Regions from separate parts of the Homo sapiens genome. Here regions 2, 3, 4 and 5 are each linked to region 1. The links come from fine-mapping of genetic effects on gene expression. A gene starts in region 1. Each other region holds a variant in brackets. All regions are shown on one strand. Distances are from middle to middle.

Region 1 (6,209 bases):
CCAGGTGCCTCAAATAAAAGACTATTAAAAACAATTACAATGCATAAAACAATAAGAACACCATGACCACTGGAGAGCTTAGTTCATAAGAACATAAATCCTTTCCTTCCTTTTCACCAAAACCTCAGCTAACAAACATGAAGACACTCAATAGGTATTCTCTGCAGAGAACACTTTTAAAAAACAAGTTATGGTTATTCTGGATAATGACACATTCCTGCTTTGAAGGAATAAGATACACCAAAAAACCAAAACCCTTAACTCAACAATACCTGATATGGCTTGGATGTTTGTTCCCTCCAAATCTCACGCTGAAATGTGATTTCCAATGTTAGAGGTGAGGTCTGGTGGGAGGTGACTGGATCGTGGAGATGAATCCCTCATGAATGATTTGGCATCATCCTCTTGATGATAAGTGAGTTCTCACTCAGTTAGTTCACCTGAGATATGGTTGTTTAAAAGAGTCTGGGACCTCCTCCCGTCTCTCTCTCTCTCACTCCCAACTCTCGCCATGTGACATACCTGCTCCCCCTTTCAGTATGATTCTAAGCTTCTTGAGGCCCTCACCAGAAACAGATACCAACACCACACTTCCTGTACACCCTGCAATACCATGAGCCAATTAAAACTCTTTTCTTATAAATTACTCAGTCTCAGGTATTCCAAATGGACTAACAGAACACCTGAATATCCAATTCCATTTCTTACTGCTGTTTTCTCTCTGAAAGGGTGAGAGAAATCTCATTAAATTTCATTCTTTCTTAGAGCTCTATTGCTTACTCATTGTATCATTTTCTAGAGGAAGATGGCAGAAGGATCCAATCAAACGAATTCCAAGTTTAAAGCAGTTTTTTGGGGTTTACGCCCAAGCCTCTGGTCCAGGCCAAATATAGTATTTCCACACTGCTTTGGAAGCCCAGCTTAACTCTAACACAGCGTTCCCAAAAGCAGCACCACTGACATCTGGAGCCAGATACCTCCTTGTTATGGGGATTGCCCTGTGCCTTGCAGGATGTTTAGCAAACATCCCTAGCCTATCCTCACTAGATGTCAGCAATAGCTGCCACCAGTTGTGACGAGCAAAAATGTTTCCAAACATTGCCATGCCCTGGGGATACAAAATCGTACCTGGTTGAAAACCATTGCTCTAACCCAAGGAACATTCTTGGTTATCTCAACCCTAATTCTTCACATTCATTAGATGCTCATCCAGATCTCTGCATTCAGACTTTCTCTCACCATCAAACTCAGCAAATATTTGCGAAACCTCTAAAACACAACATCAAGGGCTCTAGATAAATAAACAAGCAAGAGAGATTCCGTTCCTAACTCCAAGCAGGTTTCTTAGTAGATAAAGAATTGTAATAAAAGACGCCCAATTATATAATGTTTTGAATTGTTAATTGTTTCTCCCTGAAATGGATCTCTCATCTCATCAAACTGAAAACACCTTGAGGACAGAGACCATAACCTGTCTGCGAGTACCAATACTTGATTCATGGCCAATAAAAACAAACAATTATAGACTTCATCATAACAAGATGACAATTTCATCCAGACAGTAAAAACTTGCGCTAACTTGAACAGGTAAGTTAACCTTTCTCAGCTGTAGTTTGTTCCTCTGTAAAATGGGAAGAAAATGATTGTTGACATGACTAAATCAGAAAATATAAATTTTTTTCCACCTCTGGCACAGAATAAGCATTCAATATCTGTAGGTTATCATTACTATTATTTTATTAGCAACAAATCCTACCTCAAGAGGAAGAGCTTGCTCTGGGCTACTATAATAAACCCCTACATGACATTAAAAAAAAAAATTATCACCCTGCATTCTGAGGGTAAGAGGAAGGAAAGTAAGCATCTCTACCAATGTCCTGGGAGGAAGTGAATGCAGGAATGAATTAGATGTCAGGGGGAAAAAAAAACACACTCATCTATCTAAAACGCGTGGGTACGTTTGCCATAAACACATGAGAACCTAAAGGGGAAGTAAAAACATGCTTAATTTGTAAATACTGGCGCATGCAAGGGACAAGTGTTATAAGACTTACCTTTCTGTGTTTACTTGCTTAGTCTTTTAGACATTATGCTTAGAATTTCTACTGCTATGTTAAATATATGCCAACGATTTTTAATTTAATACAAAGCAGAGTTCGTAAGAAAAAAAGGCAAAATTTGTCAGGTGTTTTAAAGTAAAAGAATATAAAATCATGGGAAAGAGCTGGGTGAGTTGTGTGTGTGTTTGAATAAGGCAGCATTATGAGAGGGAAGATACTTGGGATCAGAGTAGAAGACAGAAAAAGGCACCATGTTGGAAGCCATACATCCAAGAACACCTCTGGCGGCACAGGAAGTTCAACTGAACAAAAAGAGACCTTACTGTCACAATGGTTGAGACGAGTATAGTGTGTACCATGGACTATACCCCAAATGCCTTAGACAAAGCAGCTCAAGTAATCCTCACAATAATCCTATGAGGCAGATATTTTTAGTAATCACATTTTACAGATGAGGAAACTGACGTTTCAGACTCCAATCCAGGCACCCTGGCTCCACAGTAGTGCCTCAACCATTATACTTTATGGTGTCTATTTTAATTTCAGACCTAGAAAATTAATTTATATTTGCTACTTAAATAAGACAAGTTCTCTCCCCTCTACCCTTTCGTATTTCAAAAGAGCATCCTTTCAGTTGCATCGTGTGTGGTGTTCAGGAGGCTGAAAGAAGAAAGTGTGATGGATGGACTCTTTTGTCTTTGGACACTGAAATAATACACACGGAGGAACTCGCGTTAGTAGAAATGGAGACGTCGTCCTGGACAAGAAGAGGATGAGGGTCTTGAGAATGAGGGAGGTAGGCCAAATTTTTAATTCCTGCTCTTGCTTTGGCTACTGTGTTCAAGCAAAAGACCCCAGACACTACCTATTTCAACTCTGCTTTTCATTTTTCCCACTCTAAGCGATGGAGAGGATGGCAGCAAGGCCAGGGGGCCTATGTGCAGGAAGGCTAGGGCGCAGTGGGCTTCTGGCAGAGGAAGGCAAGGCTGCCAACCCGGGTGGGGGCCGAGAGGCGCGTGGTAAGGCTGGGGCAGGGGACTGAGATGGGGATAGGGTGGGGAGCCAGAAGCAGGGGGCGGCGAGGCCAGTAGGGTTCGGGTCGGCAGTCTAGATGTGATTAGCAGACGGAGGTGGGACCCGAACCCCGGCTGAAGCTGAAACTGAAGCTGAAGAGGCGCCAGGGGCAGAGCCACCCTGTCACTACCATTTGGGCAGATCTCAGAAAGGAAGCGGGGCAGGAATCAAGGCATTTCGAAACAGGAGTGAGTAGAAAATAACCTCGAGCCCAGGGCCCGGGTGGTGGCAGCGGCGGGGAAGGGGCCCCGCGCGCGAAGGGGCTGCCGAGGTGGGTCCGCTCCGCGGGGAAGCCCAGGACAGAGCGCGGCGGAGGCTCGCGCCGTGGTGCGGGGCCCTGAGGCCGGGCGGCACCCACCCGCCAGCGCCCCGGCCTTGCGTACCTGAGGCGGCCGCCTGGCTCCCCTCCACTCCCTGGCAGTCCCCGACGCCGCCAGCCGACCCTGGGCGGGCTGTGGGGCTCCAGGAGCCCGGCCCCTCAGCCGCCTGCAGGTCAGACATCTGCAGCCCGCGCACGGAGCTCTCCGCTGCCAGCCGCGAGTGGCTCCGGAAACAGCCGAAGGCCGAGCGAGCGCCGAGCACAGCCGAGCGCAGCCTGCAGGCCGGAAGAAGCGGCGCGGCGGCCGCTTGAAAAGCTAGCTGACCCAGGGGCGGCCACAGGAGCTCTGGCCCGCTGAGGCTGGCGATGAGGCCGCAGGGAGGGTTACTGCGTGCTTGTGACAGACGATTTTTAAAGTCAGGGCTTGAAAGAACAAACAAAACCTGGGGAAGAGTCAGGAAGACACTGCCGGAAATCGTGGTATCCATAGAGACGCTATCGGAAGTTGGGGTTGCTAGGAAGCCGCGGCGCGTCTGCTAAGCTGCAAATGGCTGAAGTCCCGGAGGATTATGATTCCGGCCCAGATGAAGATGGAGAGCTGGAGCCTGAGAGGCCTGAACTGCCTGGACTTCATAAATTGTATGAAAATGCCGAACCAGACACCATGGCAAAGGCAGACTCGAAGCTACCAGCAGAGATTTACCAAGAGCCACAGCCAGAGACCGAGGAAGAGGACTTCAAAGAGGGGGAGCCAGACAGTGCTAAGAACGTGCAGCTGAAACCTGGCGGGACGTCCCAGGAAGGAATTGCCAAGGAGTCCAAGAGAGACGTACCAAGCGAAACTGAACCAGGGATACACCAAGAGGTAAAGTCGGAAACATCCAGAGAGATGGGAGAGTTTTTCAAAGATTTGGAGGCCCCTATGGATGAAACGCATAAAGAGTCAGACCTAGAGCCACCAGAGGAGGCTAAACCAAATGTTACAGAGGATGTGTTCCTAGAGTCAGCTATGGAAACAGATCCAGATCCAGTGCCACCAACGGAAACCATGTCTGAGGTTTCGGGGGCCACAGTCAGAGAGAGAAATTTAGAATTACTAGAGGAGGAGACTGAACCGGGGGTTCCAGAGGAATCACTTAGAGTGCAACATGAAGAGACAGGTCTAGAGCCTCCAGAGCAGACCAAACAAGATTTTCCAAGTGAGAAACTAGGAGAATCACTTGAAGAGACAGATCTTCAGCCACCAAAGATGACCAAACCAGAGACTCCAGAGGAGACACAAAGAGAGTCAACTGAGAAGAAAAGGACAGAGCCACCCGAGCAGGCTAGACTGGAATTTCTGGAGAAGGAACCAAGAAAGTCTAGTGAGGAGGCAGGTCTAGAGCCTCCAGAAGAGACTCAACCAGAGGTTCCAGAGGAGATGCAAAGAAAGGCAACTGAGGAGAAAGGGACAGAACTACCTGAGCGGACTAAACCAGACTTTCCAGACCACAAGCCAAGAAAGTCTACTGATGAGAACGTTCCTGAGCCACTAGAAGAGATCAAATTAGAGTTTCCTGAGGAAGAATCAAGAAAAACAAATGAGGAAACAATTCTAGAACAATCAGAAATGATGAAACCAGAAAGTCCAGAAGAGATAAGAAAGTCAAATGAGAAAAAAAATCCACAGCCACCAGAGGAGACTGGTCCAGTGCTACCACAGGAGATCAACCCACAAGTTGAAGAGAAAACACAAACAAAGCCAACTGAGAAAATTCTAGAGTTACCAGATGAAACCAAACCAAGGGAGACACATGTAGAATTTTCCAAGGAAGACAGGCCAGAACCAATAAAGTCTAAGTATTCTGTAGGAAACGATGAGCTAGAGCACCGTGAGCCTAAAAGAGGAAAGTTGTCACTAAGTGACAAATTTAGAAAAGAATATTACGCATTAGGATCTCTCAGAGAAAGTGAAGAATCAATTGGTACACATTATGAGTTTTTGCAACCACTCCAAAAATTGCTTAATGTCAGTGAAGAATGCTCATACTCAGATCCCTCAGAGTCTCAGACAGAATTAAGTGAGTTCGTTCATGAAAAGGAAGTTGTAGATTTGTCCCAAGAGTTGAAGGAACGGGTCTCTGAAGATGACGAAACCCAGCCAGAAAAAGGGACTGAGTTACAATTTGAGCATCTTAATTGGGATCCAGAGGAAGTTGCAGAGTGGATTAGCCAGCTAGGCTTCCCTCAATACAAGGTATACAAAAATAAGATGTTTTGAAATCACATGCTGTCATCCGTCTACTTCTTATTCCTTCTAACTTGGCCTGAGCTCTTACCTCTTTACCGGAAGGAGTATCAAAAAGTCCTAGACTGTGGTAGAGGTAACTTGGATTTTAATTTTGGCCTTGCCACTGATGTATATTTGTATTTTGGGAGAGGAAGGGAGGGTCACATCGGTTTGTTTTTCCTCTTCCAGTGATTACACTTCTCTGCAATCCTTGAATAAAAGACCAAGAAGAGTATATAGACCTCCTTTCTTTTTTTTTTTTTGAGACACAATCTCGCTCTTGCCAAGGTTGGAGTGCAGTGGCACGATCTCGGCTCACTGCAAGCTCCACCTTCCCCAGGTTCACGCCATTCTCCTGCCTCAACCTCCTGAGTAGCTGGGACTGGGACTACAGGCGCCCGCCACCATGCGCGGCTAATTTTTTGTATTTTTAGTAGAGACGGGGTTTCACTGTGTTAGCCAGGATGGTCTCCATCTCCTGACCTCG
Region 2 (6,209 bases), 87 kb after region 1:
ATATAGGCCGGGCGTGGTGGCTAACGCCTGTAATCCCAGCACTTTGGGAGGCCAAGGTGGGCGGATCACGAGGTCAGGAGATCAAGACCATCCTGGCTGACACAGTGAAACCCCGTCTCTACTAAAAATACAAAAAATTAGCCCGGCGTGGTGGCATGTGCCTGTAGTCCCAGCTACTCGGGAGGCTGAGGCAGGAGAATCGCTTGAACCCAGGAGGCGGAGGTTGCAGTGAGCTGGGATCGCACCGTTGCACTCCAGCCTGGGCAACAGAGTGAGACTCCATCTCAAAAAAAATAAAAAATAGGTGAATACTACAATAAATATGGTGCTTTACCATGAAAAAGACCTGAAGTTTATTTGTGAAAGTGGGCATCAAAGCCAGGCGCGGCGGCTCACGCCTGTAATCTCAGCACTTTGGGAGACTGAGGCAGGTGGATCACGAGGTCAGGAATTGGAGACACACCTGGCCAACATGGTGAAACCCCATCTCTACTAAAAAATACAAAAATTAGCCGTGTGTAGTGGCACGCACCTGTAATCCCAGCTACTTGGGAGGCTGAAGCAGAAGAATTGCTTGAACCTGGGAGGTGGAGGTTGCAATGAGCCAAGATCATGCCACTGCAATCCAGCCTGAGCGACAGAGCAAGACTCTGTCTTGCGGGGGGAAAAGGTGGGCATCAGAAGGGTTGCAGCTTGAGGACTACTATGGAATGGTAGAAGGAGAGTCATCCACAATCAGAGGGAACATTACACTCGTTGAGGATGGGTATGGCTCACAACACACGCTGTAAACTGAGGTCATTGGCAGATAGGTGTTTGAGATGTGTGTGTTTTATGTATCCTGTGTAGCTGGGTGAGGCTTTCCGTATTCACCTAGTGTTTCTCATGGATGGAGTCACATATAAGCAAACATGAACTTCTCATTATAATCAAATTGTTCCCTAATATTTCAGTTGCACTGAAATAAATTGATATTTTCAAAACAAGTATTCTAGCAGAACTACTGGCTTTTGACCCAAGTTCTCATGGTATAACTCATGCTAGTACCAAATCTGTAGCTCTTTGTCTCACATTGTAATAACATAGTTGGTTTCCAGTAACCTGGTGAGGAAAGACATTTCTTTTGGGGGTGCGGGTGTTGATTGCATCTGGCATGTGGCATTCTCAGAATAAAGAGGATCAGTTCAGCCATCCAAAAGCAGCAGAAGTGAGGTAGCAGTTAGGACCCTGGAGCAGAGACCTTTCCTGCCAAGGAGTGGACTAATGACATTGCATTGGTTTTGACAGGTACTTCTAAGTCAGGAGTACAATACAAAGGACATGTGGAGATCCCCAATTTGTCTGATGAAAACAGCGTGGATGAAGTGGAGGTTTGTGCTTCATAACTCCTAATCCGAGTCCTCTATATCCTCTTATTCTCAGATGAGAAAAGTGACCTGTCATTCAGGATTCATAGCCCAGGCTTGGTCCAAGCATTCAGAACCCTAGCCTGCAGATAATTTTCTAGGCATATGGTGCCATTGGAAACTTCTAGAGCAATTTGCACTTCTTTAATTTCTTCACTTTAGCTAGTGACATGGGTTCTAACTAACATTAGCCACTTGACAGAGAGGACTCAAGAAGGAACACTAATGGGGATTGTACGAATACCGCAGTACTCATGCATTTCCTTTGGAAATGTCAGCAGTCACCTGATTGCTCAGCCCCCACATTCCATAATGAGGGTGCCCCTCAAGTTATTTACCACCTACTTCTCATCTTTCACCCAGATTAGTGTGAGCCTTGCCAAAGATGAGCCTGACACAAATCTCGTGGCCTTAATGAAGGAAGAAGGGGTGAAACTTCTAAGAGAAGCAATGGGAATTTACATCAGCACCCTCAAAACAGGTATCCCTTGAGTAGTTCTGTATGCCTTAAGGAGGTAGTTTCCACCTGTTAGACTCTGGTTAAGGGCCTGGACAGTCCTTTCTTTGGCAAATGGGTAAAGATTTGGGGGGAGGGGGCTTATTTCATCTTAAAGTCAGTCCATAAGCTCGGAGTAAGGGAAAGATCTGGAGCTGTGTTGCCTAATAATGATGGTTGAGCATTTTAGATGTGGCTAGACCAAACTGAAATGTACTGTGATGGCCTGGCGCGGTGGCTCACACTTGTAATCCCAGCACTGTTGGATGCTGAGGTGGGCTGATTGCCTGAGCTCAGGAATTTGAGACCAGCCTGGGCAACATGGCGAAACCCTGTCTCTACAAAAAATACAAAAATTAGCTGGATGCGGTGGCCCATGCCTGTAATCCCAGCTACTCGGGAGGCTGAGGTGGGAGAGTGGCTTGAGCCCAGGAGGCAGGGAGGTTGCATTGAGCTGAGATCATGCCACTGCACTCCAGCCTGGATGACCAAAAAACACAAGAGATGTGCTGTGAGTATAAATTACACTACGGGCTGGGCACAGTGGCTCACACCTATAATCCCAGCCCTTTGGGAAGCCGAGGTGGGCGGATCACCTGAGGTCGGGAGTTCGAGACCAGCCTGACCAATAGAGAAACCCCATCTCTACTAAAAATACAAAATTAGCCGGGCATGGTGGTGCATGCTTGTAATCCCAGCTACTCAAGAGGCTGAGGCAGGAGAATTGCTTGAACCCAGGAGGTAAAGGTTGCGGTGAGCCAAGAACGCGCCATTGCACTCCAGCCTGGGTGACAGAGGGAGACTCCATCTCAAAAAAAAAAAAAACAAAAAAAAAACTGTATTTGAGGCTCACATTATATTTCTAATGGACAGCGCTAATCTAAAGACTTGGCATCTCTGGACTCATTACTTGAATACAGTCTGGACTATCTTTGATATGCACTCTCCAGGGATATTTAGATGCTTAGAATAGAAGTCAGCTCAGCTTTCCCCTGGGATTCCATTTCTGCCAGTGTATTCTGATCTTGGTGTTGGAATATGTATAATAACCATCAAAGAAGGTGATGGAAGGTGATAGACACCTTTTTGGGGAGGACCAGTACACCAGTGCCATAACTAGTTGTGGCTTTTCTGCAGAGGTAAGGCAGAGTGGAGGAAAGGCACTAACCATGCATCCATAGGTGCTGGGTAGATTACCCACTCTTGAAGTCATCAAAGTGCCACGGCGTTCACGCCATCCTTCCATAGTAGACCTCACATGCACTTAATATGTTATAATGTTTCCAGTTGAGTCAGGATAAGCTTTTAAAAATAATCCCAGTGGCCAGGTGCAGTGGCTCACACCTGTAATCCCAGCACTTTTGGAGGCCGAGGCTAGTAGATCACAAGGTCAGGAGATCAAGACCATCCTGGCCAACATGGTGAAACCCCGTCTCTACTAAAAATACAAAAATTAGCTGGGCATGGTGGTGCA[C/T]GCCTATAATCCGAGCTACTCAGGAGGCTGAGGCAGGAGAATAGCTTGAACCAGGGAGTCAGAGGTTGCAGTGAGTTGGAGTGCAGGCTGCACTCCAGCCTGGTGACAGAGCAAGACTCCATCTCAAAAAAAAAATAATAATAATCCCAGTGAACATACTGTATTCTATAGCATATACCCAGGTACCAGTCTGGCATAGGCCAAAAGTAAAGATGTAAAAATAGCCTCTTCCTTTTCTGGTCATAACCTCATTCTGTGGTAGGATGGCTGTGTTTGTCAAGCTGTAATGAAACTCCAGATCTCAGCTACTAAGAAGTAACTTCCATGAGCTGGAATTTTATCTTTTCAGAGTTCACCCAGGGCATGATCTTACCTACAATGAATGGAGAGTCAGTAGACCCAGTGGGGCAGCCAGCACTGAAAACTGAGGAGCGCAAGGTAAATGGTTTTCCTGGGGTGGGAGACTGTCTGCAAAGGAACTTGAGAGACCGCCTTCTTAATTCCACATATCAGCTCTCTGTGTCCCTAACCTCTAAGCCAGACCAGCCTGCGATCTGCTCATGGTGCTTTTTCAGAGCGCCTGCAATATGCATTCATTCACCCATCTTTAACCTGGTTTTAATTCATTTATCGCAGACCTTTAGAGCAAGTAGGAGCTATCAGACAGTTAAAAGTCTGACTCTTGATTGCATTTAGCACCAGTTAGGAGGTTATGAACAAAGGATGGACTTCACCTATATAAGTCTTCAGTCTAATTGGTGTGTTGATATTTCATACTTTGATATTAGAGGTCCCATCAAGAAATGGAGTTACATCCCTGTCTTCACCCAATCTCCCCAATTTTCAGGGTGAGCAAGTACTTTATCTAGAGATGGAAGTTTGTGGTTCAAGCTCAGCACTTGGTTTAGAGCCCTGTTGCTCTTTTGTCAGCATAGTGAAGTGGATACTCTGGAAGTGGGGAGAAAACCGCTTCCAGCTATTTAAACATAGAAATTGTTTGAGAATTACACTGAGCTCTTCAAAAATATCTCAATGATTTGATTTGTTATTTGACTATCAGGGTCTTCCTTGTAGAGTGGTTATTTTTACTGGGAATTGAGGAGGTTTCCAGAATCATTACCCTCATGACTGAAACACCTACACACTCAAATTCCCTTCAAACCCCTTGGAATAATTACCCTTGGAGGTGAACATTTTTATGAGAATGAATGGTACAACTGTCTCTGAAGCCACGTTGATTGAGGTTGTATCATTACTCTGTATTGATCATTTTCACTGCCACCTTCACAGGCTAAGCCTGCTCCTTCAAAAACCCAGGCCAGACCTGTTGGAGTCAAAATCCCCACTTGTAAGATCACTCTTAAGGAAACCTTCCTGACGTCACCAGAGGAGCTCTATAGAGTGTTTACCACCCAAGAGGTAAGTAAGTCTTGTCCTTCAGGCCTCATGCCATCTGCCCTTCTAGGTGACTTGAGTTGGGGGCATATCCCTTCAGCAGTGTACAGAAGAGGTACTCACAAACTCACAACTGGAGCCATGAGGCCTTCATCAAAGTGAATTTTTCCCTCCCTCTATTCTCTTTTTTTTTTTTTGAGACGGAGTCTCGCTCTGTCACCTGCCCAGGCTGGAGTGCAGTGGCACAATCTCAGCTCACTGCAACCTCTGCCTCCCAGGTTCCAGCAATTCTCCTGCCTCAGCGTCCTGAACAGCTGGTACTATAGGCACACGCCATCACGCCTAGCTAATTTTTATGTTTTTTAGTAGAGATGGGGTTTCACCATATTTTTTAGTAGAGATGGGCTGGTCTGAAACTCCTGACCTCAAGTGATCTGCCTGCCTCAGCCTCCCAAAGTGCTGGGATTACAGGTGCAAACCACTGTGCTCGGCCATATTTATTTATTTTAAAAACAAAAGACCTGGTCTTGCTATGTTGCCCAGACTAACGTTGAACTTCTGGGCTCAAGCGATCCTCCTTCCTCAGCCTCCTGAGTAGCTGGGACTACAGGTGCACACTACCGTGCCTGTTCCAGTTTTGGGTCATATAAGTAGAAACCACTGAGTGAATCTTACTAGAAAAGTGAATGGCCATTCTTGGTTACTCTGTAGCACAGAAGAATTCCTGGCTTCTTTGTGTTGCACAGCTGACTTGTGCCATTCTGCTGCTATAGTGTGGAGTTGAGAAACATGACCGTATTCAGCTTTATTATCTGATAGTAAAGGTGGTTAGGATATGTGGAAGTTCCCATATACTCTGGGACAAAATTTCAAGATCTTATTTTTTAAACAAAAATGTAAATACAGCCATAAATTAAGAGGTACCATGTAGTATATGGGTGTTAGTATGTCTGTGCGCCTGCACCCAAAATACTCTCGTGATAAGTTCTCTCCCCCTTAGAAAACCAAGAACTGGAGAAGCAATTAAATGGACTGGGTTTTCTAGAAATTTAAAAAGATGTGTATAAACAAAATTGTACTGTACTTCAGAAAGTTATCTTAGTTGACTCCAGAGATGTGTTATGACCTGGCTATGCCAAAGACTGCATTCGATGGCTAACTTGGTTCTACTTGGTGCCTGCTGCCTTGAAGGACTTAGCAGCATAGCTGTGGTCTTCATGTGAATTGAATTTAGCACTTCAACACAGACTTCAGTTGAATCTCTGCTTCCAAACTAGCTAAAGTTTTCAGAGTTTTAAAATACTTTTGTATGGGAGGATTCCTAACATTTTTAACCTTCTGTTTATTTTTAATTTTGTACCATGTATTCGTATTACCTACTTTAAAAAATAGTAAAGTCTTATTAAAAGTAAAAGCGGCACCGTTGGGTAATCGAACA
Region 3 (5,639 bases), 55 kb before region 1:
ACGTGCCTGATGACATCAACACCAACTCCCAAACGCAGACCTCCCTCATAGGTGTGCAAACACACAGATCAGCACCACCTTCTATCAATGCGGCTGATACAAATCACATGCTTCTCCTGAGATCCTAAGGGCCTTACTTAGGTTATGCCTTGTCTAGTGATTGAGGCTGCAACTGTTCAGTGACACTGCCCATGTGGTTTAAACCACTGTAATGGTAATCAAATTTGATGGTGATCCAAATAAAAATCTAACAAAAATCCTGGAGTGGCCTGCACTCCTCCAAGTAATATGTTAGTGTAAGGAAGAATGGGTCACAAAATATCTTTCCATTAATCATGGTAGTTAATTTTTTTTTTTTTTTTTTGAGACAGAGTCTGGCTTTGTCGCCTAGGCTGGAATGCAATGGTGCGATCTTAGCTCACTGCAACCTCTGCTTCCCAGGTTCAAGTGATTCTCCCACCTCAGCCTCCCGAGTAGCTGGGATTACAGGCACCCGCCATCATGCCCGGCTAAGTCTTGTATTTTCAGTTGAGACGGAGTTTCACCATGTTGGCCAGGTTGGTCTCGAACTCCTGACCTCAGGTGATCTGCCCGCCTCGGCCTCCCAAACTGCCGGGATTACAGGTGTGAGCCACTGCGCCCAGCCTGGTAATTACTTTCTTAAAAAAATTTTTACAAGGGTAGTGGGCTATTGTAATTACTGGTAATGACACCAAAGATCAGAGATCAATCTGAACCCCTGTGCACAGGTCACAGTGGTTAATAGACTGGTCTTAGACTGCAGCCCAGATGTCTGAAATAAGATTCCTCGGTGCCCCCAGGACTTATTCACAAGTGGCTGAATCCAGGACCCTGGAGGGCATGGTTGAGGTAAATACTGTAAGCTGGCCTTATTCTGCTGCTTAGAGTCCCATTGACAACAACCTTAATTAAATGCTGTAAGGGACAAACTGAAAAGATGTGAGTAGCCAGGGGAGTTGTATATTCATGTGAAAATCTGCTAGAAGCCAAGACCATAGAATCGAGGAGTGAGAGAGGCTGTCAGATTGCTCGTGCCTCTACACATCATTCTGGGTATACCAAGAATGCAAGGCCCTGACTGCATCTCACCTGGGCCATTTCTCATGGTTGTGTTTGCAGCAAGCAACTTTGAGAGAAGAGGCAGTGTCTCCCTCCAGGACAAAGAGGAGGTCTGCGTACTGCCTTCTATAAAACAGCAGATTTTCCAAGCTTGTCGTTCCTTCACTTGGATGCAACCCACTGCCTGTGCAGTCATCCATTTAAACCCATAGCGTCACCCTGTGGGACTTGGATGGCAAGGGAAACTGCTTCTAACATGCATCCTATTTCCTGTAATAAAGTCCTTTGTCTCTAACCCAGGAGTCTCATCTTCTGCCAGCAGTCACGACACAATAACAAGCTAATTTATTAATTTCTAAATAAAGCAACCCTGACAGTCTGTTTTCTTGCCTGCTTTTTGCTTAAAGAATTCCATTTCTGACACCCAGTATCTGGATAGTACAAGCTAAAACCTTTAAGAAAATAAATCTCTTCTCACAAGAAGAGTTCTGCCTCATAAAATCCTTTGGTCACCATACCTGAACACCCAAACTGTCCTTGCCCTATAGGATAAAGGTACACAGTTAGGTATTTTCTCCTCTGTTGATGCCTGAAAATCCTGCAGACATAGGAACTCAGGCCTTAGAAAATTCTGTACCCAAAAATTTGCAATTCTCTTTGGAAAGTTGAAAGCACCTTTAAAAGCCACAATTTGCAAGCCAGGTGATGCACTGTAGCATAACCTGGAAGACATGAGGGCTGCTTCCTCAGATACTAAGAATCCCACTGCCCCACCACCAGAGCAAAACGATCCCCCTCCCAGAGAATGCACCTCGCCAGAGGCCAACCCACCCGATACCTCAAGTTCCCCTCCACCGTGGCCCTCCTCCTATAGATCCCGCCCCCTCCGTACCCTCGGGCCAATCAGAGGGCGGCGTCCCGTCGCGGTTGCCATGGTGCCCGCCGAGTCCCTCCCATCACTCACCAGATGTGCGGCGGCTCGTCCAAGCGGTGGAAGCGGGTGGCGAAGGACAGCAGCGTCACCAAGGCCAGCAGGGCCCACCAGCCGACCGCCTCGAAGCGCCGTGAGCCCCAAGCAGGCCGTTTGGGGCTTCGCGCCACAGCCTCAGCGGCCACGTCCCGGCCTGCGGCCCTAGCAGCCTGGGGGCCACAGCGGCCCCTCCGGGGACGCAGCTCGGACTCTGCCAGGCCTCCGCCCGTGGCCGGCGGCATCTTCCCCCTCCTCTGGGTCGCCCTCCGGCCCGGAGGCACACTTTGTCTGACCAGCCGCCCCGCCAAGGAGTCACAAGAGGGCAGCTCGGGGTACCCCGGGAAATGCAACGCCCTTCACTGCAGCGGAGCGCGGGGCCCCGGGCTCGGGGCGGGGCGGGCAGCGTGGTCGCGGCCCGGGCCGCTAGGAGGCGGCAGGAGGCGCAGAGCATGTCGGGACCGGGAGGGCCGGCCGGCCCGGGGCGGGGGGGACTGGGCAGGAGGGGTCGGGCTCAGGGAACTGCAACTCCCAGCAGCCCCCAGGTACGGGGCGTGGCGGGAGAGCTGGGCGAGCCAGAGGCGACCGGAAGGATCTTTCTAGTCCAGCCCCTCGCTTTACCCGGACGAAAGACACGGGCCTGATTCGTCGAGTCTCACTGAGCCTTAGTCGTCGGCAGGTCCCAGGCGCGAAGTTTCTCGGCCTGGAGGAGGGGGTCGCGCGAAGTGCCAGATGCAGGCGGGGAAGGTCTGTGACGCGCACCCGGGTGGAGGGAAGCTGGTTAGACACCTGGAGACCCTGGGGGGCGGGGTCAGAAGTGAGCTGCACCGCCCGCCCAGGCCGACAACGACTCCCGGCATGCAGTGCTTTGCGCCGGGCACGCTCTGCGCCTGCGTGCTGCGCGCTGCCCGCTGG[G/T]GCTCGAAGTTCCGGGAGGGTTGGGCCAGAGGAGGCGGTCCTGGTAGGGAGTGCGTAGCAGGGTGGAGTCGCTGTCCGGTCGCGCTTCACTTCTGCTCCGCCCTCCCTGCTCCCCATAACAGACCCCTCCCTCCACTAAGGCTTCCAAACGTCGCCCCAAGCCTCCCAATTTCTCGCAGCCCTTCATGCTCTTCTCTTGGCCCTAGCAGGAGGTGACCTTCCAGTAATGTTTGTATTTTAAGAGTCCCCGGGCCGGGCGCGGTGGCTCACGCCTGTAATCCCAGCACTTTGGGAGGCCGAGGCGGGCGGATCACAAGGTCAGGAGATAGAGACCATCCTGGCTAACACGATGAAACCCTGTCTCTATTAAAATACAAAAAAATTAGCCAGGCGTGGTAGCGGGCGCCTGTAGTCCCAGCTACTCGGGAGGCTGAGGCAGGAGAATAGCGTGAACCCAGGAGGCGGAGCTTGCAGTGAGCCGAGATCGCGCCACTGCACTCCAGCCTGGGCGAAAGAGCGGGACTCCGGCTCAAAAAAAAAAAAAAAAGGCCCCGAGCGAGGAGAGGCAGTCATGACAATCACCTGGGGAGCTTCACGGCTTTCACATGTTCTTCCCGGGGCCTGCTCCAGAGCCACTCTGTTCATCTCTGGTGGAACGGGCTCGAGAATCTGCATGTTTTTATAAGCGGTCTAGATGGTTCTTAACGTGCCATGAAGTTTGAGAACCACTTTTGTGGCACTAAGGAAGGTGGCACGTTAGATGGGACTTTGCGTCACGTTAATAATGTATAGTCCTCCCTCTTCCAAATGGGATTTTAGGAGTCTTTTTCTCAAATCATGTGTAAGACATGGTTTAAAAATAAAATCTGCTAAAGTAATCAGAATGCATATTTGAATTGGAAACACAGGTCTTCTAGGAGTGCTGATGAGATGGATACTTGGGCTTAAAGTTTAGTTCTACAAGTGCAGAAAGGAACGGGGCATGGTTTACATAGTTATCACTGGTAAGAGAAGGCAGAAATTGCCTAAGAGATTTCAGGTTTCCTGCTTGTGGGTCGTGACGGAGGGCAGCAGCATTTACCATGCTTCTGGTCACTCGTAGTACAGATCCAAAGGTGTAATCCAAAGGCATTTAGCCATTAGGTAAGGCATTTCTTCAGGGATTCTAAGCTAATTAATGTCTGCCACACTCTAGTGGTCACCAGCAGTCCCTGTCCCTTGGCACCAGGAGTCCCTGTAGCCTGGCTAGGTAAGGAAAGGGAGTTGCATCTCCAAATAAGGAAGATCCAGTTGTGGCCACCCAATTCCTCCTCTTCGAAAGACACTTTCTGCCCATCACCTGCTTTCTGTGCCAGGACCATCTTTACTTTCTCCACAAAAGGTACCTTCAGGACAGGCTGGGACTGCTGGGCTTGGGAACCATCTTGGAAGGGCCTAGGTTCCCACTTACACCCTTGCCATCTAGCAGACTGAGTTGGTAGTACAGGGATGGCAATAGCAAGTTCAGAGAGCAGCTTAATATGCTAGGGGTGGCAGAGGGGAGAGGGAGCTTTGGTGAAATGTCTATAGTCAGAGGGGTAGTAAACAGGGCATCTGAGAAGTTCTTTCAAGTTCTCCCCTATCCATAGGGATACACATGTTTTGGTGGGAAGATTCATGAGTGCTAATCACTGGCGAGTCTTTCCTGGGTTCCACTTTGAAATGCTGGCTCCCGAAGAAGTACCAGAGAAATTAACTTTGAGCCCCTTAAACCTTGGAGTAGAGATCGCACACCCAGCTGCCCCCAAGGGCCCAAAGGTAACAAAAATGAGAAAAGTGGGCCAGATATGGGCCATGGCAGACCTGAGAGCGCATACGCTGGTTGATGGGGGCCATTAGTCTGTTCCCATCAATTGCTGCTATTTAGGAACCCAAATCTGTCTCCAGATTTTTTTAAAGAAAAAAAACAAACAGGTGTTGTATATAAAATATCATGATTTTTATTTTTATTTTATTTTATTATTTATTTATTTTGAGATGGAGTCTTGCTCTGTCCCCCAGGCTGGAGGGCAGTGACACGATCTTGGCTCACTGTATCCTCCGCCTCCTGGGTTCAAGCAATTCTCATACCTCAGCCTCCCAAGTAGGTGTGATTACAGATGCACACCACCACACCTGGCTAATTTTTGTTTAGCCATGTTGTTTCGCCATGTTGGCCAGGCTGGTCTCGAACTCCTGACCTCAGGTGATCTGCTGGCCTCAGCCTCCCAAAGTGCTGGGATTACAGGCATGACCCACCATACTAGAATGAAATGTCCTGATTTTTAAACATTGGCAACTACTTGAAACATTTTAAACTACTGTGTTGAGCAAACAGAAATTCTGAGGGCCAGATAGGGCCCCAGTGAGCTGCCAGCTTTTGACCTCACCTTTGGGGTGAGTGAGCATATCTGCCAGCTGTTTTTATGGGGACAGCCGAGAGCCCGGAGGACTGCTGGGAGGTGGGGTTGAAGGAGATATGTACCAAAGCGTCAAAAAATTAGAATTCCTTGTCTTGCTGCATTGCTAGAGGATGCCCTGCCATCATTTTAGGGCAACCTTTGTTTTACAAATGAGGGAGCCGAAGATTTAAAAAGGCAGAGGTTTGTCCAAGGTCATGCAGAGCTGGTTCCTGCACCAGGTCCAGACTCCAGATGCC
Region 4 (6,209 bases), 38 kb after region 1:
GAGTACAAGACCAGCCTGGCTAACATGGTGAAACCCCGTCTCTACTAAAAATGCAAAAAAATTTAGCTGGGTGTGGTGGCGTATGCCTGTAATTCCAGCTACTCAGGAGGCTGAGGCGGGAGAATCGCTTGAACCCGGGAGGCAGAGGTTGCAGTGAGCCGAGATCGTGCTCTCCACGATCTGCACTCCAGCCTAGGTGACAGAGCAAGACTCAGTCTAAAAAAAAAAAAAAAAAAAAAAAAAATTTAATAAAGCTGTACCAATTCTTTGGCCTAATAACTTTATTTGGAAAATTATGTACAAGGAAGTTCAACTAAATAAGGCATAGTTACATAAATTATGGTACATCCATACTTTGGGATATTATACAACCTTAAAATCTATTTTTTTACATTAATCTCTTACTAATATAATTAAAATTTTAAATCCTGAGATGAAAACAGAGAAAGGAAGAATAGTGTAGGGTGTCTAGTGGTCTTAGCCACTGCTGGGCACAACTACATAGTCTGTGCATCCAAACACCAGGTACAGCAAGCACACCCTGCTAGGGAGATGCAAGAGACTGTGCTCAAAGCCTGCTGGGGTAACCTTCTACTGTGGGAAAGTGGAGGGGCTTAACATCATTATTTCTTATTGATTGATTAATTGAGACAGAGTCTTACTCCGTTGCTGAGGCTGGAGTGCAATGATGTGATCTCACCTCACTGCAAGCTCCGCCTCCTGGGTTCAAGTGATTTGCCTGCCTCAGCCGCCTGAGTAGCTGGGACTACAGGAACCCACCACTACACCTGGCTAATTTTTGTATTTTTAGTAGAGACTGGGTTTCACCATGTTGGCCAGGCTGGTCTCAAACTCCTGACCTCAGGTGATCTGCCCACCTCGGCCTCCCAAAGTACTGGGATTACAGGTGTGGGCAAATCATTATTTCAAAAAATGTTAAACGATACGAGAATATGCTCATGATACATTATGTAAAAAAAAACAGAATACAAACAACTGTATACAGTGTCGATTACTGATATAATTAGAGAAAAAAAAAACACGGGAAGGAAATAACCCGAGTAGATTATAGGTAGTTGTATCCTTCCTTGTAGACAAATTTTCTACAATATGCATATTATTTTACATTTTTTATTATTGAAGTATAATTTACATATAATGCAAAACACAGATATGAAGTGTACAGTTTGATCAGTTTTGACAAAAGCATACACCCATTTAACCCATACCTCTCTCTCAAGATATAAAACATTTTCATCTCCCCAGAAAAAGTTGCTTTGGGACTTTCTCAGTCTATCTCCCCAGAAGAAATCATTGTTCTGATTTCTATCACCATAAATGGAATCATTACAAAACTTTTTTTTTTTTTTTTTTGAGACGGAGTCTTACTCTATCTCCAGGCTGGAGTGCAGTGGTGTGATCTCAGCTCACTGCAACCTCTGCCTCCTGGGTTCAAGCAATTCTCCTGCGTCAGCCTCCTGAGTAGCTGGGACTACAGGCACGCACCATCATGCCCAGCTAATTTTTGTATTTTTAATAGAGACAGGGTTTCACTATGTTGGCCAGGATGGTCTCAATCTCTTGACCTCGTCATCTGCCCGCCTTGGCCTCCCAAAGTGCTGTGATTACAGGCGTGAGCCACCGCGCCCGACCACAAAACATTTTTTTAAAGTCAGTAAATGTCATTTTTAAAAATATAAGGCCAACTGCAAATGCCTGGAACTGTTTAACACCCAACCAGACCCTAACTGATTCAGTTAGAAGATCTGAACTCTGTATGGAAAGCTTCCCTGTATCAAAGATCTGGAAAGATACTTCACCACCAAGGGCACAGGGAGGAGACATGGATATAAAACACATACATGGAGAAAAAAAGTCGCTTTAAAGAACAGGAGAAAAGGCCATGCTTCTAACCTTTCTTAGGGCTAGCAAGCTGAGAACTCCACACGCTGTATGCAAGGATTCCTCTTTGGAGGACCCTTTCAAAATGGCTTTGTTGACACCTACACAGCACAACCAAGCCCCCTTTCTACCACACACTGCTCCTCACCCAGAGTCTCTGGCCTCCGAGTGGAGATCCGCAGGCTTTCAGCAGGGATGGGGCCAAGCTGCAGCAGTGTGCCAGCCAGCTGCTTCCCAAGGTGGCCACCTCCAATGATGCCCACCTTAAACTCTTCAGGAGTGGCTGAATTAAGGGAGCCAATTGAGAGATGTCTGGAACTTTGATTCTTATTTAATGATGCTCTGGAGAATGAACACACAGACACGTACATAAATACATGCACACACTAGTTTTTCTTTTTTTTTTTTTTTTTTGAGACAGAGTCTTGCTTTGTCGCCCAGGTTAGAGTGCAATGGGGTGATCTTGACTCACCGCAAGCTCCGCCTCCCAGGTTCACGCCATTCTCCTGCCTGTCTCCCGAGTAGCTGGGACTACAGGTGCCTGCCACCACTCCCGGCTAATTTTTTGTATTTTTAGTAGAAACAGGGTTTCACTGTATTAGCCAGGATGGTCTCCATCTCCTGACCTCGTGATCCACCCGTGTTGGCCTCCCAAAGTGCTGGGATTACAGGCGAGAGCCACCGCACCCGGCCTAGTTCTTCTTAACTGTCATTCTCTGACATTTTCTGCTTTGTCATTTAAGGTGCTTGGTGGCACCTTAAGTACTTCGGAGATAAGACATTTCAACTGTGTGTCATTTATCCAGCCTCACTAGGGAATGAAATGTTCCTCCTGAGTTAATTTTCCAGAAACAAAAGTATAACCCTTTTCAAGGGACCAAAATTTAAAATGTTTTAAATGAACATACTTTGTTACATGTATTATGCTTGCCTGGTTAAACAGTCTGAATATTTAATCATTTCACTGGCTCAGGACACCACTGTGAACAGCCACTATTATACAGCATACTGTAATGTCTATAACACATTGTGGGCCAGTCCCCTCATGTTTTGTTTGTTTCTGTGCAGACAGCTTTCAATTTTTTTTTTTATTGTGGTTAAAAAACACATGCTGGGTACGGTGGCTCACATCTATAATCCCAGCACTTTGAGAGGCCAAGGCAGGCAGATCACTTGAGCTCAGGAGTTTGAGACCAGCCTGGGCAACATGTAAGACCTCGTCTCTACAAAAAATACAAGAATTAGCCAGGTATGGTGGTGCACACCTGTAGTCCCAGCTACCCAGGAGGCTGAGGTGGGAGGATTGCTTGAGCCCAGGAGTTTGAGGCTGCAGTGAGCTGTGCTCGTGCCACTGTACTCCAGCCTGAGTGACAGAGCAAGACCCTGTCTCAGGAA[AACACACAC/A]ACACACACACACACACACACACACACACACCATGAACTTCACCATCATAACCATTTTTAAAGTGCACAGTACAGTTGTGTTAATTATATGCACATTGTGGCTAGGCATGGTAGCTGATGCCTGTAATCCCAGCACTTTGGGAGGCCAAGGCGTGTGGATCACTTGAGGTCAAAAGTTTAAGACCAGCCTGGCCAACATGGTGAAACCCCATCTCTATTAAAAATATAAAAATTAGCCCAGCATGATGGTGTAAACCTGTAGTCTCTGCTACTCAGAAGGCTGAGGCAGGAGAATCTCTTGAACCCGGGAGGTGGAGGTTGCAGTGAGCCAAGATCCACTACTGCACTCCAGCCTGGGCAATAGAGCAAGACTTGATCTCAAAAAAAGAAAATACATATAGATAGATAGATAGATAGATAGATAGATAGATAGATAGATAGATAGACAGACAGACAGACATATAGATATAGTTGTGCAACAGCTCTTTAGAACCTTTCCATCTTGCAAAACTGGAACTCTATATGCTTTTTTTTTTTTTTCGAGACAGTCTCCCTCCATTGCCTGAGCTGGAGTGCTGCGGCACAATCTCAGCTCACTGCAACCTCCACCTCTCACATTCAAGCAATTCTCTGCCTCAGCCTACTGACTAGCTGGGATTACAGGCGCGTGTCACCACACCCCACGCCCAGCTAATTTTTGTATTTTTAGTAGAGATGAGGTTCTCCATGTTGGCCAGGCTGGTCTCGAACTCCCCACTTCAAGTGATCCGCCCACCTCCGCCTCCCAAAGTGCTGGGATTATAGGCATGAGCCACCACACCCGACCTGAAACTCTATACAATTTTTCTCTCTCCCCAGCCCCTGGAAACTACCATTCTACTTTCTGTTCCACTACTTTAGATACCTCATATAAGTAGAATTATGCAGTATTGTCTTTTTGTACATGGCTAATTTCACTTAGCATAATGTCCTCAAGCTTCATCCATATCAATTTTTGGATTTTTTTTCTATCTTCATGAAAAATGTCATTGGGATTTTGATAAGGATTGCAGTGCATCTGTAGACAGCAATCTACAGGGTCATAGGACAATAGCGTGGGAAGGTCAGCAGATAAACAAGTGAACAAAGGTCTCTGGTTTTCCTAGGCAGAGGACCTTGCGGCCTTCCACAGTGTTTGTGTCCCTGGGTACTTGAGATTAGGGAGTGGTGATGACTCTTAAGGAGCATGCTGCCTTCAAGCATCTGTTTAACAAAGCACATCTTGCACCGCCCTTAATCCATTCAACCCTGAGTGGATACAGCACATGTTTCAGAGAGCACAGGGTTGGGGGTAAGGTCACCGATCAACAGGATCCCAAGGCAGAAGAATTTTTCTTAGTACAGAACAAAATGAAAAGTCTCCCATGTCTACCTCTTTCTACACAGACACGGCAACCATCCGATTTCTCAATCTTTTCCCCACCCTTCCCCCCTTTCTATTCCACAAAACCGCCATTGTCATCATGGCCCGTTCTCAATGAGCTGTTGGGTACACCTCCCAGACGGGGTGGTGGCTGGGCAGAGGGGCTCCTCACTTCCCAGTAGGGGCGGCCGGGCAGAGGCGCCCCTCACCTCCCGGACAGGGCGGCTGGCCGGGCGGGGGGCTGACCCCCCCACCTCCCTCCCGGACGGGGCGGCTGGCCGGGCAGAGGGGCTCCTCACCTCCCAGTAGGGGCGGCCCTTTCTTATTTTTAACGTAGGCATTTACCCCTATAAAGTTTGCTCATAGTACTGCTTTTGTTGCAACCCATAAGTTTTGGTATGTTGTTTTCATTTTCACTTAAGATATTTTCAAATTTTCCTTGTGATTTCCTGTTTGATTCATTGGTTGTTCAAGAGTTGTGTTGACTTCCACATATTTGTGAACTTTCTAGTTTTTCTTCTGCTATTTCTAGTATCATTCTATTATGGTCAAAAAAAAAAAAAAAAGACGGTTGGTATGATTTGAATCTTCTTAAATTTGTTAGGACTTATTTTGTGACCTAACGTGATCTATCCTGGAAAATGTTCCATGTGCACTTGAAAAGAACGTGTATTCTGCTGCTGAGTGGAGTGTTATGTACTTGTCCATTAGGTTCTAATTGGTGTGTCATGTTGTTCAAGTCTTCTGTTTCCTTACTAACCTTTTGTCTGGTTGTTCTATCCATTATTGAAAGTTGGGTATTAAAATCTCCTACTATAATTGTATACCTTCAGTTATGTCAATATTTGCCTCATATATGTGGATGTTCTGATGTTAAGTACATATATAATTGTTGTGTCTTCCTGGTGAATTGGTCTTTTTATCATCATGTCATTCTTTGTCTCTCATGACAGTTTTTGACTTAAAACCTATTTTGTCTGATACAAGTATGACTACTCCTGTTCTTTTTTGGTTACCATTTACGTGGAATTATCTTTCTCTATGGTCTGACTTTCAGCCTATATGTGTCCTAACATCTAAAGTGAGTCTCTTGAAGACAAGATATACGTTGGATCTTGTTTTTGTTTTTGTTTTTTATCCATTCAGCCACTCGGTATCTTTTGATTGATGGGTTTAATCCACTTACATTTAAAATAATTACTGATAGGGAAGGACTTATCACTGCCAGTTTGTTTTTTTCTCTGTGTTGCAGTTTTGTTCTTCTTTTCCTCTCTTGCTGCCTTCTTTTGTATTTCACTGATTTTTTTTTTTTGTAATGACATTATTTTCTTTTTGTTGTTGGTATTTTCTTTGTAGTTACCGTAGGAAATTGCATAAAAATCATAAAAATAGTTGTAACAACCTATTTTAAGATGATAATGTCAATCATATACAAAAACTCTACTTCATCTTCCCCTACCCCTGCTTTTTGTTATTTATCTCATGAATTATATCTTTTGGAT
Region 5 (6,209 bases), 37 kb before region 1:
GGTTTGCTCTCCCCTCCCCCCATACTCCTACCCTTTGCCCCCTAATTTTATTTTGTTTTCCCTCGTTGTGATCAATTTTAAAAGACAGTTCTCAAGCAGCACAAAACGGTGTAACTTATGCCCCTCCCTTATGCTCCACTAAAACAAGTCTCTTATGTAAATATTAGGGTCACTCAATTCCACACCTTAGAACCACTGGGGTTAAAAGGCAACCTTCTGCAGATAAGTGGTCTTAACAAACAAATATAAAAGCAGACTTTAGAGTCTGGGTTTCAACTAATTCTCTCAAAGAGGGACTGAGCAGGACTCATAAACATAAACTCATATTCCCTACAGATTAAGACTTTTTATGATAATACCTAATTCTACTGCTTAATATAAGACAGCGTTCAGATTTCACTCTTCCATATACATATTATAATGGGACAATATACACTTTTTTAAAAGTCTGAGTTTTTCTTCCCAAAATAACAAAAATATTTTTTAAAGTGCATGTATCAATTCATTAAGAAAAAAATAACTAAGAATGGTCTAATTCCAAATTGCTACCTACTTCCATGATAAAGCTACCTGTTATCTAAGGATTGAGTTTTAATATCAGAGTCCTGAGGACATGTCATCAAGCAACAGAGGTTAGCATAAAGCCCTTCCGGAGCAGCTTCACAATCACTCTTGTACTGACATGCCAGTTAGTAAGGAAAACAGCAGAGATCATGGCCTGAGGGAAGGGGAAAATACAGCACAGATGTATTTTCTTGAAAGATGGAGACCAAGAAACAATTTTTTTTTTTTTGAGACGGAATCTTGCTCTGTTGCCCAGTCTGGAGTGCAGTGGCATGATCTCGGCTCGCTGCAACCTCTGCCTCCTGGGCTCAAGAAATTCTCCCTGCTTCTGCCTCCAGAGTAGCTGGGATTACAGATGCCCGCCACCACGCCCAGCTAATTTTTTGTATTTTTAGTAGCGACGGAGTTTCACTATGTTGGCCAGGCTGGTCTCGAACTCCTGGCCTAAGGTGGTCTGCCCACCTTGGCCTCCCAAAGTGCTGGGATTACAGGCGTGGGCCACGGCGCCTGGCCTCCAAGAAACATTTTTATGAAGACCACCTCCTGGGTAACCCATGTTGAATGAAACAGGTCTGCTAAAAATCAGGGGCTCTCCAACAGAGCCGATATGCAGGGGACATTCTCAGCATTCTCTAATTGGACACTTGTCAAAAGGAACAGAATGTTAGAATCATCTTTGCCTAGGAATTGGTAGTTTAAAATTTTTACATTTATGCGGGGAGTGTGTGTATACATATATATACAGCAAACCAAAAATAAATTCTAAATCCCCCAACCGGCTGAATGGACCCCTGTCTTGGCCCAGGGGATCTCAAAGGAACCTGAAAAACTAGTCCATGATGGGAAGACAGGGTGCCTCATATTATGGTCAGATTACAGGGTGCCTCATATTACCCTCTTCCCTTTGGAATTTAAATACAACTGACCAGCATTAACATTAAAACAGAGATCTTAAGACTAACCAAACAGACCCTTTGTGGCAATAAAATACCAAATCCCAACCTGACTCTGGTATAGCATCACATGACAGCAGGCCCCAAAGGAAATTTACCCCCCAATATATTTATTTGACGTATTTTGAAATGGCCCTACAAAGCTGTCTCTTGTGGGGGAAACTGCATTCTGTAGAGAATCTCCTTCTCTTATTAGGTCTTTTCTGGAGAGTCTGACACCTTTTAAGGCCTAAAAAGAAAAATTCATCATCTGTTCTCTCTGAAGCCTGCTACCTGGAGGCTTCATCTACATGACTTAAGCCAAGCCTCCCTTACTTTAACTTAAGCTGACTTCATCTTTTCAGGTAAAGTTTAACTCTCTCAACCAACTGCCAGTCAGGAACTCTTTGATCTACCTCTGACCTGGAAACCCCCATCTTCAAGATGTCCTGCCTTTCCAGGCCAAACCAGTGTATACCTTACATGTATTGATTTATGGCTTTGCCTGGACCTTCTGTCTCCCTCAAATGTATAAAACTGTAACCCGACTACCTCGGGCACATGTTCTAAGAACCTCCTGAGGCCCCATCATGGGCTCTGAACCTTGGCAAAATAAACCTCTAAATGTATTGAGACCTGTCTCAGATACTTTTTGGTTTACAATATATTTATATTTCTTTTAAGCTGTTTGCTGAAATTTTTTCACAATAAAACACTGGGGGAAAAGAAATCAATACTTTAAATATGTCTTCCTTTCTAAAAGGCCCATCTCTCAACAAAGTGGCAAAACTAAAACTAAAGAAATTTAAGAACTCAGTCACTATAGAGAATTCCAATCTCTCTCCTACTATGAAGCACTTTCTTTCAATTGTTTGTTACTATTTGTTTGTGCTCTAGAGAACAGGGTGAGGATCAAAGCAAACGGTTTTCATTTCATTGTTTGGGTCTATAAATTTGGACTGGGAGGGGCTGAGGAAATGACTGTCTCTTAGAATTTGCTGGGCTGTGGGTTCTCAGTAATTACCTGTGCTTCAGTAAGTAGTATCTTGCCCCTAAAGTTCAATTATTTCAGAAATGTAACATGAAAATAGTGAATTAGACAGTGAAAATATCTTCTTTTAGCTATTTTGTGCTAATGGAACACAGAAACCCTGACAGTTGGTGAAAAACCAGTATGAATGAAATGTAACCATGCCCAGGACTTCAAAAGTGACCAGACCCTAAGAGGCACACAGAGGTGAGGGGAACAAGTCCCTTAGGCTTCCCTGATGCAACAGAACTAGGATTCCAAAGAAAATAAGCAGAGAATCTCATGGTGAAAATAAATAATAACAAGTGTTATCCTTGGGAGCTTGCTGTGTATGGCCTGACTGTTTCAATTTGAGAGAAAGGCAGAAGTTAATAATAAACAGGAAAAATAAGCAAGGCTTTAGCTGACTAGAAAACAGCTCAGTAGAAAATTATTTTACAAAGATTATATTCAGTTAGCTAAGGCATGATTCAACTTCAATGATGCAAGAGCGGTCACTCAGCTATCCAATGGGATGACACACAGCAAATCAGCTCTTCACTGCCTCAACAGACAGTCACTAAAATAATTTCTTTAAAGGTATATAAATGTTGGCCAGTGTAATCCTCTACAAAACACATTTGCAAATATAAAATAATGGAGGTATGATGCTGCTCAGAGAATGGGAATGCTCTGGCAGTCCCCAACATCCTATCCCACTTGGGGCTTTGCTCCGAGGGGAAGAGCAGGTGCAGGATATATTGCCCTTTGATGTGATGTAGATGCTACTAGGGACCCACTGGGAAGAGTCCCGTTCCTTGAGTTATGCTACTGTAGGGATAGACCCTTGGTGTGAGGAATCTAACAATGAGTCAAAGGAAACATCACAAAGAAGGTGACACCTCAGAGGAGACAAAGGACTCTGAAATCCTGGAATCACGGGATATCTCTGATTGGTTAGGGAATTCCTCTGCACTCAATCTCCAGCAAATGGGCAGATTCCCTCACAACTTAGAATTTTTCA[T/C]GGGGAGTGCTGGACTGTACCCCAAACATGGAGTAAGGTGGCATCATCCATCTCTGAAGGGCCATACTCCTCGCAAAGCCGTCACAGGACTGACCTACAGAAATAAAACATCATCGCTTCCCAAATTCTCCTAAAAATATCATCTTTAACTCCATAAAAGAGGGGGCTTCAGTGGCTCAGAACAGATGGGAAGCCTTCTGAGAAACAGATGGAAACTGTTTCAAAGGCAAAATGAAATGTGCTAAAAAAATAAATACAGTAATAAATAAATCTAATTATTCTTCAGAATTCGTAGGCAGTAACAGACATAACACGAGGAGTAAGAGACAGGGAGGTACAAACACAGAGACTGCTGAGGTCCCATCTCACCTCCGTCTCCTCCTCCGCCTGGGGGCCCAGCAGCTGGTGCTCTGGTGACCACTGGCTGCAGCACTACCTGCACTCTGTGGCACTCCTGAGCCTCAGGGGTGACACAGTAGGAAATGCTGTCACCAGGGAAATGCAAGCTTTGGTCAGGTAAAGAACAAATACAATCAGCAGCAATAGTGAAGCTTCATTATCACCTAAACTAAGGGACTTTGAACACCAAAAGCTTTAAGCCCTCAATGCAAGAAAGCTAAATGCAGAAACTTTGGAAACCTGATTGGGTTTCACTGCATTTGATTCCAAAGCAACATTTCTAAACAGCACTCCTACTCTAAAGACAAAAAAAAGCGGTGGGGACTCTGGAGTGTTTTTTGTTTTTCATCTTCTCTGTCAGATGATACCATTCCTTCTTTGATTATACCAAAAAAAAAAAAAAAAGTAACACGACTTTCAAATATGTGGGTTCTGACATCAATTCAGTACCTAATTTCCACTCTCTCCACTTTGACTGCCAGTGCCCATAGTAAGGGAAACCAGCTCTTGGAATAGGAAATAATGGGGGCAGTTTTTCTTCCCACAAGATCTTAGGTTACATTGATCATCACTTGAGATTGCATGAATGTTCTTGCTGTAATGGCAAAAACATAGACTTAGGAAAGAGAAAGGAGGGGGTGTCTACCATCAGGAATAGTAATAGCCCTCCAAAGGCAGTGTGGTCTCCCAGCTATGCAGAGACCAAGAATAACCAGCAGGCAGGAATATGGCAGTGGTGACAGGCTGGATAGAGCTTTCTCCAACCAAAAGATGGGGCTCCTTCATGGGCAATGTGCTTTTCCCTCTTCTGGCACCTCAACAACTGAAGAGAGTGGGTGCCACTAAATGCACTGGCAATAAGGGCTGTGGGAGAGGAGAGGGCAGCAATCTGAATGATAAACCTGTGCCAAGATGAATCTATTTTTAAAAAACATCGCCCTGCTTCCTTTTAGGCTTGTGCCCCATAGGTGCCTTCAAGAGGGAATTTGCTGGAGTCTGAAGCAAGAAGGGTATGAGTCAGGGACTACAGAACAGGGGCACTACACCACCACCTGCAGAAGCCAAGAAGGGGAAAAAGCTACGTGGGCCAACAGTCAGGCATGCCAGACAGGGTGTGAGGCTCAGCAGCCCCCCATGAACCTTTGGCTCTTGCCTATCCCAAACAAGAGGCACCAGCTGGCAGCCTGCTTCAGCCAGCAAATACAGCCTGCCCCTGTCCCAGCAGTCCTTCAGCTGGTGTAGTAGATGTGGAAGTAGAGAGTCTTGTTGCGCAGCAGGGAGTAGGAGTTGTCGAACTTGAGCAGGTAGATGCCCTCACCAGGGTAGTCATGGCTGCCAGCCTGCACGTCTCGGTGGCTGTCCCGCCGGTACACAGGCATGACCTCCCCATAGCGACCCCGCAAGGAGCTCCTGGAGCCTCTCTCCACATCTCCAGCTGGAACGGGTTCTGCGTGAGCAAAATGGCAAAGTGTTCAGAGACTGCGTAAGTCCTGCCTGAAGGTGAGCGGAAGGACCAGGTGACCCAGTGGCTTTCACAGAGCGGGGAGATTATTGCCCTCCTACAGACATTTGGAAATGTCTGGTGATCTTTTGGTCATCACAGTGACTATTAGGTGATATCTGCATTTAGTACCCAAGGGTCCAGGAGTGCTAAAATCAGGATAGTACCTACACAACAAACAATGTCCCATCCCAAATGCCAATAATGTCTCCACTGAGAAAATGATTTAGCCTGAGAGGAGCCTTCCTAGCTTCAGAAGTGTCTGGACATTTCTGAGAGGGAGAAAGAGATATTTAGAAGAAAAGATCCCGATATTCTATCATTTAGTAGGTGAAAGGACTAGCTAACGAAGATAGGAATTGCAGATAAACGTGCTATAAAGTGACCCTAGGATTCCTGAAAAGCAGCAAATAAGATACAAGGTTCTCCGCTTTCCCAGATACCTGTAGGTTTCCCTGCCCGCTTGCTGTTCTATGAAGAAGCACGTTAAAGGACTGACTTTAAGATTATATAAGAAAATCAAGGAATAAGAGGAATAAGACTAATGCTTAGGACCTACTCTTACGTTATCTGAAAAATGCCTCTGGGCCATCCTTTGTGTAGTGTGTAGACACTACAAATAACAGCCGGAATGGAGCCCGGAGACCCTTTTAAAACTTGTCTGGGCATGAAGTAAAGAAGTAACCAATAGCCAGCTATGAGAGTTTGGGATAAGGAGAGAATGGATACCTTTAGCAAACTGTAATCACTCACTTTGGTTCCAGGCCAAGAATAAATATC

Alleles and levels. Alleles are on the strand shown, and positions count from the first base shown. SD is a standard deviation of normalised expression in the study named. Not every link is listed here.
With allele AACACACAC in place of A in region 4, the expression in Th2 cells of the gene that starts at base 3,676 in region 1 is lower (large effect, 0.88 SD a copy in Schmiedel 2018).

What was found. PIP is the estimated chance that this variant, and not a neighbour inherited with it, causes the effect.
Region 2: its variant is fine-mapped to the expression of TMED8 in whole blood (TOPMed, PIP above 0.99).
Region 3: its variant is fine-mapped to the expression of TMED8 in whole blood (INTERVAL, PIP above 0.99). The same link has a PIP of 0.9 or more in blood mononuclear cells.
Region 4: its variant is fine-mapped to the expression of TMED8 in Th2 cells (Schmiedel 2018, PIP 0.95).
Region 5: its variant is fine-mapped to the expression of TMED8 in Th1 cells (Schmiedel 2018, PIP 0.95).

Annotation. Positions count from the first base shown.
Region 1 is chr14:77,373,419-77,379,627 of GRCh38, forward strand. TMED8 (transmembrane p24 trafficking protein family member 8) reads right to left here and starts at 3,676. Exons shown (of 6, transcript NM_213601.3): 1 at 3,518-3,676. The coding sequence starts at 3,635. It overlaps SAMD15 (sterile alpha motif domain containing 15), which reads left to right and starts at 3,961. Exons shown (of 3, transcript NM_001010860.4): 1 at 3,961-5,689. The coding sequence starts at 4,001. RefSeq lists a silencer at 3,254-3,683 and an enhancer at 3,734-3,943.
Region 2 is chr14:77,460,873-77,467,081 of GRCh38, forward strand. It overlaps AHSA1 (activator of HSP90 ATPase activity 1), which reads left to right. Exons shown (of 9, transcript NM_012111.3): 3 at 1,288-1,370; 4 at 1,770-1,887; 5 at 3,726-3,814; 6 at 4,667-4,795. Among named protein-coding and RNA genes, the nearest start is that of AHSA1, 5.9 kb to the left of the region's middle. The variant C/T (reference allele first, on the strand shown) is at 3,377.
Region 3 is chr14:77,318,390-77,324,028 of GRCh38, forward strand. POMT2 (protein O-mannosyltransferase 2) reads right to left here and starts at 2,494. Exons shown (of 21, transcript NM_013382.7): 1 at 2,045-2,494. The coding sequence starts at 2,292. It overlaps GSTZ1 (glutathione S-transferase zeta 1), which reads left to right and starts at 2,647. Exons shown (of 9, transcript NM_145870.3): 1 at 2,647-2,794. The coding sequence starts at 2,780. RefSeq lists silencers at 1,981-2,030, 2,261-2,640 and enhancers at 2,721-2,990, 2,868-3,729, 3,261-3,310. The variant G/T (reference allele first, on the strand shown) is at 2,963.
Region 4 is chr14:77,411,884-77,418,092 of GRCh38, forward strand. NOXRED1 (NADP dependent oxidoreductase domain containing 1) reads right to left here. Exons shown (of 6, transcript NM_001113475.3): 2 at 2,051-2,244. Among named protein-coding and RNA genes, the nearest start is that of NOXRED1, 8.5 kb to the right of the region's middle. The variant AACACACAC/A (reference allele first, on the strand shown) is at 3,298.
Region 5 is chr14:77,336,614-77,342,822 of GRCh38, forward strand. It overlaps TMED8 (transmembrane p24 trafficking protein family member 8), which reads right to left. Exons shown (of 6, transcript NM_213601.3): 6 at 1-5,375. The coding sequence ends at 5,158. Among named protein-coding and RNA genes, the nearest start is that of GSTZ1, 19 kb to the left of the region's middle. The variant T/C (reference allele first, on the strand shown) is at 3,530.